Linked DNA regions of Homo sapiens: region 1 is linked to region 2. The links come from fine-mapping of genetic effects on gene expression. A gene starts in region 2. The other region holds a variant in brackets. All regions are shown on one strand. Distances are from middle to middle. Region 1 holds the start of RAB5C (RAB5C, member RAS oncogene family). Region 2 holds the start of AOC3 (amine oxidase copper containing 3).

Evidence for each region. PIP is the estimated chance that this variant, and not a neighbour inherited with it, causes the effect.
Region 1: its variant is fine-mapped to the expression of AOC3 in tibial nerve (GTEx, PIP 0.97).

The regions. Positions count from the first base shown.
Region 1 is chr17:42,148,530-42,156,854 of GRCh38, forward strand. It overlaps RAB5C (RAB5C, member RAS oncogene family), which reads right to left and starts at 6,460. Exons shown (of 6, transcript NM_004583.4): 1 at 6,364-6,460. RAB5C-AS1 (RAB5C antisense RNA 1) reads left to right here and starts at 5,871. Exons shown (of 3, transcript NR_187282.1): 1 at 5,871-6,180; 2 at 6,470-6,579; 3 at 7,239-8,325. RefSeq lists enhancers at 5,912-6,532, 6,442-6,736, 6,619-6,728. The variant G/A (reference allele first, on the strand shown) is at 3,962.
Region 2 is chr17:42,847,449-42,855,773 of GRCh38, forward strand. It overlaps AOC3 (amine oxidase copper containing 3), which reads left to right and starts at 3,751. Exons shown (of 4, transcript NM_003734.4): 1 at 3,751-5,495; 2 at 7,000-7,285; 3 at 7,996-8,125. The coding sequence starts at 3,896. AOC2 (amine oxidase copper containing 2) reads left to right here. Exons shown (of 4, transcript NM_009590.4): 2 at 1,638-1,923; 3 at 2,153-2,282; 4 at 2,634-3,259. The coding sequence ends at 2,900.

The DNA.
Region 1 (8,325 bases), 700 kb before region 2:
GGTCCTAAACACACAAAGATCAAACAGGACCCGATCTGTGCCCCTAAAGGGCTCACCCACCAGAGAATGAGGCAAATAAGGAACAATGAGATAGCAGTTGAGAAGACAGCCCATGTAGGAGACAAGCCCTCAGCCCATTTGGGGCAAGGGAAGGCTTCACAGAGGAAGTGGCATTCAAACTGAGCTTTGAGAGAAAAGTAGGGAGATACAGTTTCCAGGCACGTGAGGTGCAGAAGAGCCTTCTAGGCAAAGTGAACAGTAGGCATTTAGCCCAGAGATGGGTCAAGGAGAGGCTGTATTGAATAGCGATAAGAGCACACCCCATCTCTGCCATTACTACATAGTCCCCCACTCTAACATGGGGATTAAACACAGAACCTACCTCCTGGGGTTGTCGGAGGATTAAAGGAGTCAACACATAGGGCTCACAAGAGTGCCTGGCACATGGCAAAAATAGAAGTTTAGCTTTTATTTGTATTACTGTTCTTATACATAGAGGATGGGGCTATTTAATTGGAAAAGTAATCTCTTACAATACCAAGCTATTAATGCAGAGGATGCCAAAAATATTCCGATTCTCCTCTGCCAAGGTTTTTGCAAGCATGATTACCTGGATTTTGGCACATCCTAGTTTATAAATTCTACCTAAAGCAGTGCTTCTCAAACAGCCCCAACATATGTACCCTTCACTCAAGTCAGGGGAGAGGAAACTCCCAGAAATCTGGGAGTTGAACCCAAAGCAGCTGGCTACAAGCAAAATACTGTCTTTGGCCAGGTGCAGCGGCTCATGCCTGTAATCCCAGCACTTCGGGAGGCCAAAGTAGGAGGATCACTTGAGCCCAGGAGTTCTGAGACCAGCCTGGGCAACATGGCAAAACCCTGTCTCTACTAAAAATACAAAAACTAGCCGGGCATGGTGGTACATGCCTACAGTCCCAGCTACTCAGGAGGCTGAGGTGGGAGGATCACTTGGGTCCACAAGATCAAGGCGGAAGTAAGCCATGATCGTCCCACTGCACTCCAGCCTGGGTGAGAGAGGCCCTGTCTCAAAAATAAATAAATTAATTAATTAATTAAAGTTTCCTGTGTTAGCTTCAATTCATGCAAACTTTGCATTCTAATCTATAATAGTTACAGGACTGTTTTAATATTAAAACGCTTACAACTAAGTAAAACTGAAGTGGCACAGCGTTCTCTTCTGTAAAATGGGAATACAACCCACATCAATTCTGTTCAATGTCTACAAAATGAGACAATTTGTGAAACCATCAAGCAATGTACAAGGCATCCCAGCAGACATTTTGTTTTTGTTTTAGACATGGGGTCTCATTATGTTGCCCAGGCTGGTTTTTTTTTTTTTTTTTTTTGAGATAGACTCTTGGTCTGTTGCCCAGGCTGGAGTGCAGTGGTGCAATCTCGGCTCACTGCAACGTCCACCTCCCAGGTTGAACTGCCTCCCAGGTTCCTGCCTAAGCCTCCCAAGTAGCTGGGATTACAGGCATGTGCCACCACGCCTGACTAATTTTGGTATTTTTAGTAGAGATGGGGTTTCACCATGTTGGCCAGGCTGGTCTCGAACTCCTGACTTCAGGTGATCTCCCAGCCTCAGCCTTCCAAAGTGCTAGGATTATAGGCGTGATCCACCACACCTGGCCCCCAAGCTGGTCTTGAACTCCTGGGATCAAGCGATCCTCCCAAAGTGCTAGGATTATAGGCATGAGCCACTGTGCCCAGCCCCAGCATACATTTGGTACACATGTTGAATCAGAATCAGTGTTGAGGCTGGGCACAATTACCTGAGGTCAGGAGATCGAGACCAGCCTGGCCAACATAGAGGAACCCTGTCTCTACTAAAAGTACAAAAATTAGCTGGGCATGGTGGCACACGCCTATAATCCCAGCTACTCAGGAGGCTGAGGCAGGAGAATAGCTTGAGCCCGGGAGACAGAGGTTGCAGTGAGCCAAGATCACGCCATTGCACTCCAGCCTGGGAGACAAGAGTGAAACTCCATCTCAAAAAAAAAAAAAAAAAAAAAAAAAAAAATCAGCCAGACACGGTGGCTCATGCTTGTAATCCCAGCACTCTGGGAGGCCGATGAGGCGGGCAGATCACCTCACCTGAGGTCAGGAGTTTGAGACCAGCCTGGCCAACATGGTCAAACCCCATCTCTACAAAAATACCAAAAAAAAAAATTAGCCGGGCATGATGGCAGGTGCCTGTAATCCCAGCTACTCAGGAGGCTGAGGCAGGAGAATCGCTTGAACACAGGAGGCGGAGGTTGCAGTGAGCCTGGGCAACAGAATGAGAATGAGACTGCCTCAAAAAAAAAAAGAACCTTCAAACCCCTACCTACCCATCAGAGGCAACTGCTATTTTGTGGGCATCCAGTCTGCCAGCACTGGACTAGCTCCTTTCTTTGTTTCTAATTCTGCAAGGTATTTAGCATCCCCATTTTACCAGAAGAAACACAGGCTCAGTGAGGTCAAGTAACAAGCCCAGGGTCACACAACTGGTAAGTGGGGGAATCAGGATGAGAACTCAGGTCCAACTGCCTCTGAAGTTCTAGTGCCTTCCACCCGACCACACTGCCTGTTTACTGGGCAAGGGTTAGAAGTAGAAGGTCTGGCCAGGCGCAGTGGCTCACGCCTGTAATCCCAGCACTTTGGGAGGCCAGGGTGGGCGGATCACGAGGTCAGGAGATCGAGACCATCCTGGCTAACACGGCGGAACCCCATCTCTACTAAAAATACAAAACAATTAGCCGGACGTGGTGGTGGGCACCTGTAGTCCCAACTACTCTGGAGGCTGAGGTAGGAGAATGGCATGAACCCGGGAGGCGGAGCTTGCAGTGAGCCAAGATCGCACCACTGCACTCCAGCCTAGGCGACAGAGCGAGACTCCGACTCAAAAAAAAAAAAAGAAGTAGAAGGTCTAAGAAGTACTTGCTTGGTGGGGCTGAATTTAAATGTATGATCTTGCTCTGTTTCCATGTAAATTCTAGTGACAGGAGCTCCTGGTGGCAAGCCACATTCTTCCCACTTGCAAGCAGCAGGCAGCACCACAGGAGAAACAGAGGACTAACCAGAGGCCCGCTCTGTTGCTTCCCCCTTAACCCTGCCCAGTGGGACCCCTGAGTTTACTCACTTTAACTTTCATTTTCTAGCCATTAGGACTTTCAGGTTCCCAGAAAAATTAATGACATGTAGATGTCAGCAAACTCTCAGGCCCTGAAGAGTACTGACTTGGGACTCCTAACTGTTTTGGTCCTCAGAGGCAGAGGTGAAAGGGGTCAAGAGAGAAGACAGGAGGTCGGGTAGACGCTGGGGAAGACAAAAAAACAGAGGAGCGCTAGTGATGAGGAGGGCTAAAGAGTTAAGAGTCTGCCCTTGTGCCGTGGCGCACTCAGTCTGCATGTTCATTCATTTAACGAACAAACCAGGCCGAAGAAGGGCCCACTGTTAGATCAGGTCACATCTGACCCCAAATCCAAGCCCCAGCTCTACTACTTTCTAAATGTATGATCGATCTTAGGCAAACTACTTAAGTTCCTTCTGCATCCCTTCTAAAGCAGGGACACTTGCCTTATCTTACTCAAAAAAAAAAAAGTAATAATAAAAATTAAAAACAAAGTGGGGAAACAAGCCCCACTATTTCCCAAGGCACCTATGAGGAATATGTATGAAAATAATTTTGCAACCTTAAAATGATTTTTAAAAATTAGTGTTACTGTCCCTCTACAGTTTAACAGCCCTCTAATTGTGAGAGGCAAGAGGGCAGGGGAGGAACAGCATCAGAAAGGAGGGGTTCTGTCGCACACGGAGCCATCGCTCTCTCTGCCAGGCAGAGTCAGACCTCTGCTTGGACTCTATAATTTCTAGGTGCCAGAAGTGGCTGCATAACGACCCAAAGCACTGGGGCCTGCCTCGTCTCTCTAAATGGCAGAGCTTCCCCTTCAAAGTC[G/A]TTTCAGGTTGGGTGCAGTGGCTCATGCCTGTAATCCTAGCACTTTGGGAGGCTGAGGTGGGTGGATCATCTGAGGTCAGGAGTTCGAGACCAGCCTGGCCAACATGGTGAGACCCCATCTCTACTAAAAATACAAAAATTAGCTGGGCGTGGTGGTGCATGGCTGTAATCTCAGCTACTCAGGAGGCTGAGGCAGGAGAATCCCTTGATCTCGGGAGGCAGAGGCTGCAGTGAGCCAAGATTGTGCCACTGCACTCCAGCCTGGGTGACAAAACAAGGCTCTGTCTCCAAAAAAAAAAAAAAAGTCGTTTCAGAGTCAGAGCTGGGAGAGCATGTCCAGACAAAGAAAAGAAGGTCTCCTCAGAAGGCTGGTCGGCCTCATCCCAGCACTCCTGAAGAGTGACAAACTGCGGTCTACTCCTGAAGACCTAAGTCTGGTCAGAGACCAATGGCCAGTGAGCAGTCAGGCCTCTCTGGCCCTGCCCCTCAGATGCCCAGGCTGACCAGATCAGAGAAACTAGGTTGGTTGAAGAAGTCTCCAATGAACCCCAAAGGAACCCACACAGATACAGAGCCTGTGATCCAGCTGTTGACCCTAATAAGGAAGGCTTCTTCTGTTGTCCGATAAAAAGTGAAATAAGTAGGCCGGGCACGGTGGTTCACACCTGTAATCTCAGCACTTTGGGAGGCTGAGGCGGGTGGATCACCTGAAGTCAGGAGTTCGAGACCAGCCCGGCCAACATGGCGAAACCCCATCTCTACTAAAAATACAAAAATTAGCCGGGTGTGGTGGCAGGCGCCTGTTAATCCCAGCTACTCAGGAGGCTGAGGCAAGAGAACTGCTTGAACCCAGGAGGCAGAGGTTGCAGTGAGCCAAGATCACGCCACTGCACTCCAGCCTGGGCGACAGAGCAAGACTCCATCTCAAAAACAAACAAACAAAAAAGTGAAGAAAGTACATCCTAGCTCTACTCAAAAGACTGTAGGAATCAGATACTAGCCACTGTCCAGAAGCCCTCAAACACACCTCAAGGCCAAAAAACACAGCACTTTTAAGTGGCAAGCGAGGGTGGTAAAGGTAGCCCAGAACACTGAAGAGCTACAGAAGTTCCCACAAACTGCACGGCTTTCCGTCCCTTCCTCCACTGTAGATAGCAAGGGTCAGTCATGGCCTCAGAGCCAGGCTACTCCTCGTTAAGGTACAGTCTCCGGCCTGTACTTTGGCCACATAACAAAGCTTGGTCTGAGACAGCAGCTATTTCACACACCTAAGCCCCAAGCAACAGACAAGGATCAGTCAATATGGTTGAGGGAACCTGCACTTTCTGGCATGTATCGGAATTCCTCAGGCTACAATTAAAAATCCAGAACTGCCATTGTGATCTTGACTTAGTCCTCAGTAATAAGTCCAAGCCCTGAAGGGATTGCAGACAGACCCTGGCGTGGTGTGGACCTGTTGCTCAGGGAGGTGTATGTGTGTGTGTTTGGGAGTGGGAAAGAGATGGCCCTTCAATTCCAGACTCCTCATTTTGGGTCTTATTCTCCTCCCTATAGACACACGGACAGCAGTCCCAAGAAAAGCAGTCCCTTTGAGGCGGCTGGGAAACCACTCACGTGCTCTGGGAGGACAGAGCTGAGCCTGGAGCAAGGGGGGAGGGGAAAGAAGATAATGAATGGGCACATCCACCCTGATCTGTGATCTGTAGCTAGGATTGAGCAAACCTCAGCTAAATTCTTCAGAGGCAGAAAGAGAGAGACACTCAAAGAACAACATAACTAGAGGACAGGGCTGGGAGACAGAAGGGGCAAAACAGGAAAACAGCTCATTTCTAGTAAGTGACTTTAAACTCAGCTGAGGTCCTGGTTGGTTCTCTGGCTTGAGGAAAGAGAGGAAGTAAGGAGTTGCGGGAGCGCACACACACTTCTGTGCGTGTGGAACGGTCTCACCCAGACGACCCCCCTCCCCCAAAGGAAATCGAGATATTCCTCTAGGGCTAGAGGGGACAACTGGTTTTGTGGGACAGGAGGAAGGAAAACGGCGACAGACAGCACTCCCTGTCACTTCTAAAAGAGAAGAGGGACAGGTTCCTTCACACCTAGCAAAGATCCTCCGATTCTGGAAGCAGGGGGAGCGGAACTTAGGGTACCTCTCTCCCACAACTAGAATGGACAGGCCAGAGGACAGTCATAGCGGTTTCCTTAAGGCTCACCAAAGGCAGGTAAGCTAAGGAAAGAAGCTCCCCACCTCCTATGGCCCGACGCCTGGGGAGCCCCTCAAGAGGGGGCTACGGGTCGGGGGAGGGGTCAGTATCCCCCTAAACTGGGGCTGGGCGGGAGGAAGGGCTGCCCTGGAGATGCTTCAACGCAGGCGAGACACCAGGTCCTGGGACAAGCATACTCACGGCGGCTCCGGGGCGGCGGCGTTACTTGGGGCCGGGGCTCGGACGGGATCCGCTTCTCTCCCCGCCGGCGGTGTCCCAGGCTCCGGCCTCCACTTCCGCCTTTCAGCCGCTCCGGATCCGGATCTCCACCTCCGCCCCGCCCCTCAATACTCCCAGGTGATTGACAGTGCGGAGACCAATGGGAGGCACTCTTGGCCGACCTACCCAGCGGCGCCGGTAGGAACGCGGGAGTGGCGGTAGGGAGCGCGCGAGGGATCGCGGGACTTGTAGTTCGCAGCGCTGGGAGGAGTCAGTGGCTGCCTGGGACTTGGGCTTAGGGTGGAGCCGGCTGACTGCGAGGCGGAGCCCGGCCGGAACTTTTTTTTTTTTTTTGAGACGGAGTCTTACTCTGTCGCCCAGGCTGGAGTGCAGTGGTGCGATCTCACTGCAACCTCTGCCTCCCGGGTTCAAGCGATTCTCCTGCCTCAGCCTCCCGAGGAGCTGGATTATAGGCACGCACCACCACGCCCGACTAATTTTTGTATTTTTTAGTAGAGACGGGGGTTTCGCCATGTTGGCCAGGCTGGTCTCGAACTCCTGACCTCAGGTGATCCGCCCTCTTCGGCCTCTCAAAGTGCTGAGATTACAGGCCTGAGCCACCGCGCCCAGCCTACGGCCGGGAACTTTTTAAGGCTAACCCTGCCATCCGCGTCACCGCCGGTTCCGGACGCCCCGAGGGAAGGCGGGTGGTGGAGCGTTGGAAGAAGGCAGAGGATTGTGTGTGCAGAATTGGGAAAGAAAAAACGTGGTGCGAATGAATATGCACGCGAGGCCTCAGTCCTGTGAACTCGCTGATCTGGAGAAGCCCTTGTCTGCACTGTCCGCCCGATTGCCAGGGGCGTCTGTGATTGGGAAGGTGAGGAAAGCGCTGCAGGAAGAGTTCTCTGCAGGATGCTGGGTGAGATCAAAGGGAGAGCTTCTGCCACCACCTCCTACTTGGTGTGTGCGGGGGCCGGCACAAAGACCATCTCTGCCTCTGCCTTCCCCTGCTCCTAGCCAGGGTCAGCTCTTCTCTCTGACGCGGAATACAGAGCTGGACAACCTCTGCCTCGGCCCTCTCCATCCGTAAATAAAGACTAGAACCACCCCCACTCTGCACTCTCCCCCTCTATGGATCAGGAATATTTGTTTTTTCTGCTCCTCTCAATATGGACTGGGCCCGCTCCTGATTCCTCCCACCCTTACCTCTCAACACAAACCAGTACCTCCTCTTCTTTTGCATCTCATCCTCAAGGGACACTACTGAAAACCTGTGTGGAATCAAAGCTCACCGGAGACAGCTGTGGCCATTGTGCCTATAACGCCAACACCAGGCATATCCTGGAGCCTCAGCTGGAGAATTTACCTGTCTTGGACAACCTGCCACAAAACTGTGCCCACATCTAGTTCCATCTGGTCATCAGGGCGTCTCTCTTTCTTACACCCATAACACACAATCCCCACTTCCGCGCCAGTGTTCATGAGAAGTGAAAAGGAAGAGGGAAGAGAGGGCTTGTTGGGAGGACAGAGGGGATGGGGCAGAGTGGGATTCCTAGCAGGTTCTGGCTGGTGACAAGCTCTTCCCCCAGCCCCCTTGCCATACCCAGTTCTGGAACAGTTCCTTATACAGGAGGGATGGGTAGTCCCCTAGGCCCACCTTTCCAAGGCTGGAGGTGGGCCAAAGCCAGGACTCTGTCCTTCCCACATACTGTGTGCATACATGGCTGTGACTGGGGTGCAGGGGAGAGAAGGGGGTATAATAGGCCCATAGTGACTAATTAAGTTTCTTCCTCAACCCTGGGGCCCCTGGTGGTGTGAATGTGGTGCCAAGTAGATTGGCTGGTGCCTCTGCCCTTCCTAGAGATAGCAACTGGGCCCTGGGGTACAACGAAGGTGAGGGTGGGGAGTGATTGCTGTGTTGGCTCCTCCAAAGCCCTGGGGCTC
Region 2 (8,325 bases):
AAGTGCTGAGTTAGGCAGTGCAGGTTATGGATGCTGTAGAATTCCAAGGAACTCCCAGACAAAGGTATGAATGTGCTTGCTTCTGAAAAACACTGACAGTACTTCCCACCTTGCTGAGATCAAAAGTGAAGTCTCAGAGCTGGGAGGAGTATGCAGGGGACCATGGGAAGGGATTGGGTTTTCTTTTTTTGAGGCAGTGTCTCACTGTCACCCAGGCTGGAGTGCAGCGGTGCAATCACAGGTTACTGCAGCCCTGACCTCCTGGGCTCAAGCAATCCTCCTGCCTCAGCCTCCTTAGTAGCTGGGATGACAGGCATACACTACCACGCCCAGCTTTTTTTTTTTTTTTGAAGACAGAGTCTCACTCTGTTGCCCAGGCTGGAGCACGGTGGTGCAATCTCAGTTCACCGCAACCTCCACCTCCCAGGTTCAAGCGATTCTTGTGTCTCGGCCTCCAGAGTAGCACACCACCACACCTGGCTAATTTTTTTAAATTATTTATTTATTTAAGTAGAGATGGGGTTTCACCATGTTGGCCAGGCTCATCTTGAACTCCCGGTCTCAAGTGATCCACTCGCCTCGGCTTCCCAAAGTGCTGTGAGCTACCATGCCCGGCCTTTTTTTTTTTTTTTTTTTTTTTTTTAAGAGGCAGTGTTTCATTCCGTTACCCCAGCTGGTGTCCAGCACCTGGGTTCAAGGGATCTGCATCACCCTGCCACCAGCCTCCTGAGTTGCAAGCTGCCACACCCGGCTCAGGAGTCAGTTTTTCAGCTAGCTTCTCCAAGACAAATATCATTATCCCTTTCATAGTTAAAAGAATGTCACTAGTCAGCTGCAAGTGCTTTTCTGTTTATTGGGCACAGCCATAGAACAGCTTTAATTATGCCCAGTGTAGGGATTCAGAAAGTGAATCAGAGAAGCAAATTGGTCCAGGGACTGTTTGGTAGTCCAGTGCTAATAGAACTTTCTGTAGTGATAGAAATATTCCGTATTTGAGCTGTGGCTCTAAACAATAGTCACTAGCCATGTGTGGCAACTGGGCACTTCAAGTGTGGCTAGTGTGACAGAGGAACTGAATATATATATATATATATATACATATATATATATATATATATTTTAGACAGAGTCTTGCTCTGTTGCCCAGGCTAGAGTGCAGTGGTGTGACCTCAGCTCATTGCAGCCACAACCTACTGGGCTCAAGCAATCCTCCTACCCCAGCTTCCCAAGTAACTGGGACCACAGGCATGTACCACCATGCCTGGCTGATTTTTTTATTGTTTGTAGAGTCAGGGTTTCACCACGTTGCACAGGCTGGTCTCAAACTCCTGGGCTCACATGATCCACCCGCCTCAGCCTCCCAAAGTGCTGGGATTGCAGGTGTGAGCCACCTCAGCTGGCCCTAAGTTTTAATTTTCATAGCCACGTGTGGCTAGTGGTTACCCTATCGGATAGGGCAAGTTGGAAGAAGATAGGAGCTTGCTCTTGCCCAGACCTCCTGGCTCCCAGCACAGTGTGCTCTGATGCTCTCTCTGCCTTTTGTCACACCAGTGCAGTGGACATCATGGGGAAGACAGGGACCTGGCCCAGAGACCTTACCTGGTGTGGAACTCATCTCCTTTCCCTCCCCCTGGCAGGGCTGAAAAACTGGGTGGTAGCTGAAGACGTGGTGTTTAAACCTGTGGCTGCCCCCTGGAACCCGGAGCACTGGCTACAGCGCCCACAGCTGACTCGGCAGGTCCTGGGAAAGGAGGACCTGACAGCTTTTTCCTTGGGAAGCCCCCTACCCCGCTACCTCTACCTGGCTAGCAACCAGACTAATGCGTGGGGTCACCAGCGCGGGTACCGAATCCAGATCCACAGCCCCCTTGGCATACACATACCCCTGGAGAGTGACATGGAGAGGGCCCTCAGCTGGGGGAGGTGAGGAGGGCCCTGGCCTGGGTGGAAGGAAAGGACAGCCCCTCCCCTGCCCCAGTCCTTGGAGACAAACTCCCTTCCCACGGCTACCATTCATCCCTGTACCTCCCCTCAAACCCAAGTTAGATACACGGTGGGAAATGGTCTCACACAGAATCGGATCTAAGGGACTCCTGGGCCAGTAAAGGCACTTGACATTTCCCAAAACCACCTTCTTATGATTCCTGGCCAGATACCAGCTTGTGGTGACCCAGAGAAAGGAGGAGGAGTCACAGAGCAGTAGCATCTATCACCAGAATGACATCTGGACACCCACAGTTACCTTTGCTGACTTCATCAACAATGAAACCCTCTTAGGAGAGGTTGGTTGCCCTAGGGACATAGGAAAGGGACACCTGTGGGCATGGCATCTTGGCTGCCCAGCCTCTGGCCAAAGGTTAGAGGGAATGGCTGATTTCCAGTTCGCAGATTCAGAGGCCATGGAGTTTTCTGATGACCAACACAGGTCATCCCTCCTGGGGTGAGATTAGCTCTGGGACACTGGCTCCCCCCTCTCCCCGCACAGCTGCTTACATGGATTGCTCCACGTGTTGTATGGGCATGAGGCTGGGGAGAGTGGAAGCCAGGCTGAGACTGGAGGCTGGGATTGTGACTGAAGGGTGGTTCTTTGGGTCACGCTTCCATAGTCCTCCAGCTCCTCCTTCTTCTTGCAGGATCTGGTGGCTTGGGTCACAGCCAGCTTCCTGCACATTCCCCATGCCGAGGACATCCCAAACACAGTGACTCTGGGGAACAGAGTTGGCTTCTTGCTCCGACCCTATAACTTCTTTGATGAGGACCCCTCCATCTTCTCCCCTGGCAGTGTCTACTTTGAGAAGGGCCAGGATGCTGGGCTCTGCAGCATCAATCCTGTGGCCTGCCTCCCCGACCTGGCAGCCTGTGTCCCGGACTTACCCCCTTTCTCTTACCACGGCTTCTAGTCCTGAGGGTGTGGCGGGCGGCGTGGTTAGGCACATGTACTTTTCCCTGTTTCTACTTTCTATTCTCCGTGTTTTTATCACACCTGCTCCCCAGATTCCCACCCCCTCAATGTTCCTCTCACACGAAACCCCCATCAGTCCCTTTGGTTAATTCTTACTTCCTGTTCATCTCTAAAGTGTTAAATTATAAAAATGATTTTTAAATATTCAAAGAAAAATATCACAAATCCTACTACTCAGAAATAGGTGGTCACATTACATCAGACATCTCTTTATGCATGTGCATTCAAAAGGAAGAGTAGATAGAATTTTGTAAAACAGATGTTGTATGTAATTTATAATAAAAAGTATTAGAGGAATTTTACTTGAATTTATTGTTTGACCTGTTAAGTATCTAGAGTCCTCTGGAGAATACTAAGGAGTCTGGCCAGGGAAATTAGCGCTGGGGGCCAGAGGGCAAGGGGGATAGACCTGGCCAAGGAATGTCATTTGGAAAGCTAAAGGGGCAGGGGGTGGGGGTCTTTGGAAGGAAAACGATAGTTTGAAGTTACAGGAAAATATCTGGCCCTGACTAAGTGGGGGACTGGGGAAGAAGCTGGGCTGAGGTCAGGAGAGGCTGCTCTGCACAGATCCTGCTCCTTCCCAGTGCTGCATTATCTTGAAATTTTCCTTCCCCTTCCCCCTAGCCCCAACTCTCCCCAACTCCAACCCTGACCCAGAAAGTAGAGTGATTTGGAGGCTGGAAGACAAAACCATGTAAGGTCTGTGGAAATCACAGCTGTTCAGACCCGCCTCCAACCCCGGCCACCCCGCCCCCTTGCCCTAGCCTTCCTGTGTCCTTCCCACCCTTAGTCCCAGGCATCTGACTACCGGGAACCTCAGCCAGAGTCCGGGAGCCCCCCACCCCGTCCAGGAGCCAACAGAGCCCCCGTCTTGCTGGCGTGAGAATACATTGCTCTCCTTTGGTTGAATCAGCTGTCCCTCTTCGTGGGAAAATGAACCAGAAGACAATCCTCGTGCTCCTCATTCTGGCCGTCATCACCATCTTTGCCTTGGTTTGTGTCCTGCTGGTGGGCAGGGGTGGAGATGGGGGTGAACCCAGCCAGCTTCCCCATTGCCCCTCTGTATCTCCCAGTGCCCAGCCTTGGACACACCCTGGCCAGAGCCAGCTGTTTGCAGACCTGAGCCGAGAGGAGCTGACGGCTGTGATGCGCTTTCTGACCCAGCGGCTGGGGCCAGGGCTGGTGGATGCAGCCCAGGCCCGGCCCTCGGACAACTGTGTCTTCTCAGTGGAGTTGCAGCTGCCTCCCAAGGCTGCAGCCCTGGCTCACTTGGACAGGGGGAGCCCCCCACCTGCCCGGGAGGCACTGGCCATCGTCTTCTTTGGCAGGCAACCCCAGCCCAACGTGAGTGAGCTGGTGGTGGGGCCACTGCCTCACCCCTCCTACATGCGGGACGTGACTGTGGAGCGTCATGGAGGCCCCCTGCCCTATCACCGACGCCCCGTGCTGTTCCAAGAGTACCTGGACATAGACCAGATGATCTTCAACAGAGAGCTGCCCCAGGCTTCTGGGCTTCTCCACCACTGTTGCTTCTACAAGCACCGGGGACGGAACCTGGTGACAATGACCACGGCTCCCCGTGGTCTGCAATCAGGGGACCGGGCCACCTGGTTTGGCCTCTACTACAACATCTCGGGCGCTGGGTTCTTCCTGCACCACGTGGGCTTGGAGCTGCTAGTGAACCACAAGGCCCTTGACCCTGCCCGCTGGACTATCCAGAAGGTGTTCTATCAAGGCCGCTACTACGACAGCCTGGCCCAGCTGGAGGCCCAGTTTGAGGCCGGCCTGGTGAATGTGGTGCTGATCCCAGACAATGGCACAGGTGGGTCCTGGTCCCTGAAGTCCCCTGTGCCCCCGGGTCCAGCTCCCCCTCTACAGTTCTATCCCCAAGGCCCCCGCTTCAGTGTCCAGGGAAGTCGAGTGGCCTCCTCACTGTGGACTTTCTCCTTTGGCCTCGGAGCATTCAGTGGCCCAAGGATCTTTGACGTTCGCTTCCAAGGAGAAAGACTAGTTTATGAGATAAGCCTCCAAGAGGCCTTGGCCATCTATGGTGGAAATTCCCCAGCAGCAATGACGACCCGCTATGTGGATGGAGGCTTTGGCATGGGCAAGTACACCACGCCCCTGACCCGTGGGGTGGACTGCCCCTACTTGGCCACCTACGTGGACTGGCACTTCCTTTTGGAGTCCCAGGCCCCCAAGACAATACGTGATGCCTTTTGTGTGTTTGAACAGAACCAGGGCCTCCCCCTGCGGCGACACCACTCAGATCTCTACTCGCACTACTTTGGGGGTCTTGCGGAAACGGTGCTGGTCGTCAGATCTATGTCCACCTTGCTCAACTATGACTATGTGTGGGATACGGTCTTCCACCCCAGTGGGGCCATAGAAATACGATTCTATGCCACGGGCTACATCAGCTCGGCATTCCTCTTTGGTGCTACTGGGAAGTACGGGAACCAAGTGTCAGAGCACACCCTGGGCACGGTCCACACCCACAGCGCCCACTTCAAGGTGGATCTGGATGTAGCAGGTAAGACATTTTGGTGGGGAGAAGGCTTCTGGAAGAAGGGCTGAAAAGTTGTTTCCATTAGCTTTGGGTTTTATGTAGATTATCCCAGAAAGGAAGACGTGGATTTTTGTACTTCCCCTTTTGCTGGATGGGAGAGAGTTGGCTGCTGAGTTTTATTTGGATCTTAGCTCACTGGCTGGGTGCAAAGCTGCAGCCTTCCTCTACGTGACCTCATCCAAAGATCTTGGGAAATGGCCGAGCTCAGGGAGGAGGCAGGATTTGGGCTAACAGTGTCCCCATTGCCCTCTTCTCTCCCTTGTACTTATATGGGCTCTGCTGCTGGGAGCAGCCTTCTGTTTGTCAGCTCAGTTCTGTGTCTGGCCTGTGGTGGTGGTGTTTTGGAGGATCTCTTTGCATTCTACCACGTCCCTGGCATGTGCAGGTCAGTCATTCCAGGTTGTACATTTCCTTTGGAGATGGACCCTCCTCCCTGATTTTCCTTCTTTCTCTGGGCACAATTCACCTAAGTGTGAGGGGTCACATGGATCCCGTGGAGCATTCTGGATAGATCCTGGAGTCTGGTCACAGAGAGAGCCAAGGCTACATGATGGCTTGGAGTCTTCATCTTTGTCTTTTCACTGTCTTTCCCCACATTGAGTCAGTCACCAGGTGTTTTTTTTTGGTTTTGTTTTATTTTGTTTTGTTTCTGTTTTGCACCTGCAGTATCTCGGCAGGTCAGACTGTCATGCCGTGCAGGTGCCAGCCCTCTCTCTGCTGTTTTTGCTCTTGTTGCTCTCAGAGCCAAGAGCCACTCTGCACCCAGAGGGCCTCCCATCCACACCAGCCTGCCCTTTACTCAGCTCTCACTTTCGTCATCACCTGTGGGATCCTGTCTGCAGAACCCCCTCAAAACTCTTTCCTTCACGGTGCAGCTCCACCCTGCCTTGCTGTGCTCTGCACAGCTACACCCAAATTCTCCATGTCCCTGGACACGCACTTCACATGTTACAGTCAGGCATCCTCCTGTTTGCTTATGCTTTGTCTCTGCTTAGAATGTCCTTCCATATCATCTTTTCTGGTAATGTCCTTTAAGGCCAGGCTGAAAAGTTGCCCGGAAGGGCCCCCTTTTCCTGCCTGCAACTGTATTCCTGTGATCCGGAAGTTGCCTAGGCCATGCTCCTCTCACAGGACAGGCCAGTCAGTGGTTTGTCTGTCTGCGTGGAAAGCAAGAGGGTAAGGATGATCATTCATCTCTATCCCCAGGGACGAGTACAGTCCTCTCTGCTAATGAATGTTGAAAGAATGAATGAGTGAAATGGAATGAACTCCCTGATGAAGTATTTTAATTTACAGGTCAACAGCTTTGGCTAAAGGATTGGAGGTATCCTGGGGAGAGGGAAGAGAAGGAGGGGCACACTCAGTTCTGGGCTGCTCTTTGGCCCCCACTCTGAAGCCAGATGGGGGCAGAGTCCAGAGGGGCCAGGGCAGTTGCCTGACAGGCCCTCCCCTATCCCACCCTGAGCAGGACTGGAGAACTGGGTCTGGGCCGAGGATATGGTCTTTGTCCCCATGGCTGTGCCCTGGAGCCCTGAGCACCAGCTGCAGAGGCTGCAGGTGACCCGGAAGCTGCTGGAGATGGAGGAGCAGGCCGCCTTCCTCGTGGGAAGCGCCACCCCTCGCTACCTGTACCTGGCCAGCAACCACAGCAACAAGTGGGGTCACCCCCGGGGCTACCGCATCCAGATGCTCAGCTTTGCTGGAGAGCCGCTGCCCCAAAACAGCTCCATGGCGAGAGGCTTCAGCTGGGAGAGGTGAGTGGCGGGCAGTCAGAGAGGAGGGGGGCAGTGAGAGTGGGAAAGGAGTGTTGGCGGACACTCAGCTCACACTGTAGGTGAGGGGAGAGCTCTCTCAGGAAGGCTTTTCTTTTCCTTTTTTTTTTTTTTTTTTGAGATGGAGTTTTGCTCTGTTGCCCAGGCCGGAGTGCAGTGGAGCAATCTCACTGCATCCTCCGCCTCCCAGTTTCAAGCGATTCTCCTGCCTCAGCCTCCCCAGTAGCTGGGATTACAGGTGCACGCCACCACACATGGCTAATTTTTGTATTTTTAGTAGAGATAGGGTTTCACCATGTTGGCCAGGCTGGTCTCGAACTCCTGACCTCATGATCCACCCTCCTTGGTCTCCCAAAGTGCTGTGATTACAGGCATGAGCCACAATGCCTGGCCAAAGGTTTTTCTAGTTATCCAAAGAAACCATGATGGGCACATTTTCCCCTTGGAGGCTAAAGCCCAGGAGTGAGAACTCTCTTCTGTTTTGGATGGGAGAGGGGTTGTACTGTTAAATGGCTGGGGATAAACAGGAGGACTTGACCCCCCTTAGGGTGACGTCGGGGATTCTGTAGCGCCGAGTCAGTTGTGTGACTGCAATTGGGGAAGCTGAGCTCTGAGCACTCAGTTCCCTTTCATCATAATCAGGCAGCAGGATGGGGTCAATGGCCATGGAGGCCTGACCAGTGCCTCCCTAGGTACCAGCTGGCTGTGACCCAGCGGAAGGAGGAGGAGCCCAGTAGCAGCAGCGTTTTCAATCAGAATGACCCTTGGGCCCCCACTGTGGATTTCAGTGACTTCATCAACAATGAGACCATTGCTGGAAAGGTCAGCTGGCCGGGGTAGAGGGTACAGGATGAGCCTTGCTTTCTCTTGGGAGGGTCCCTGAAAACCACCTGCACTTCTCAGGGGTGGTGCTGATTCCTGCCTTCTGCACTTCAGTATATCTGATCATTATCCTTTGAGGGAACCTTCCTGAGCTGGGTGTCCATATGCAGACACTGAGTGAGGCCCTGGGCCTGTCCTTG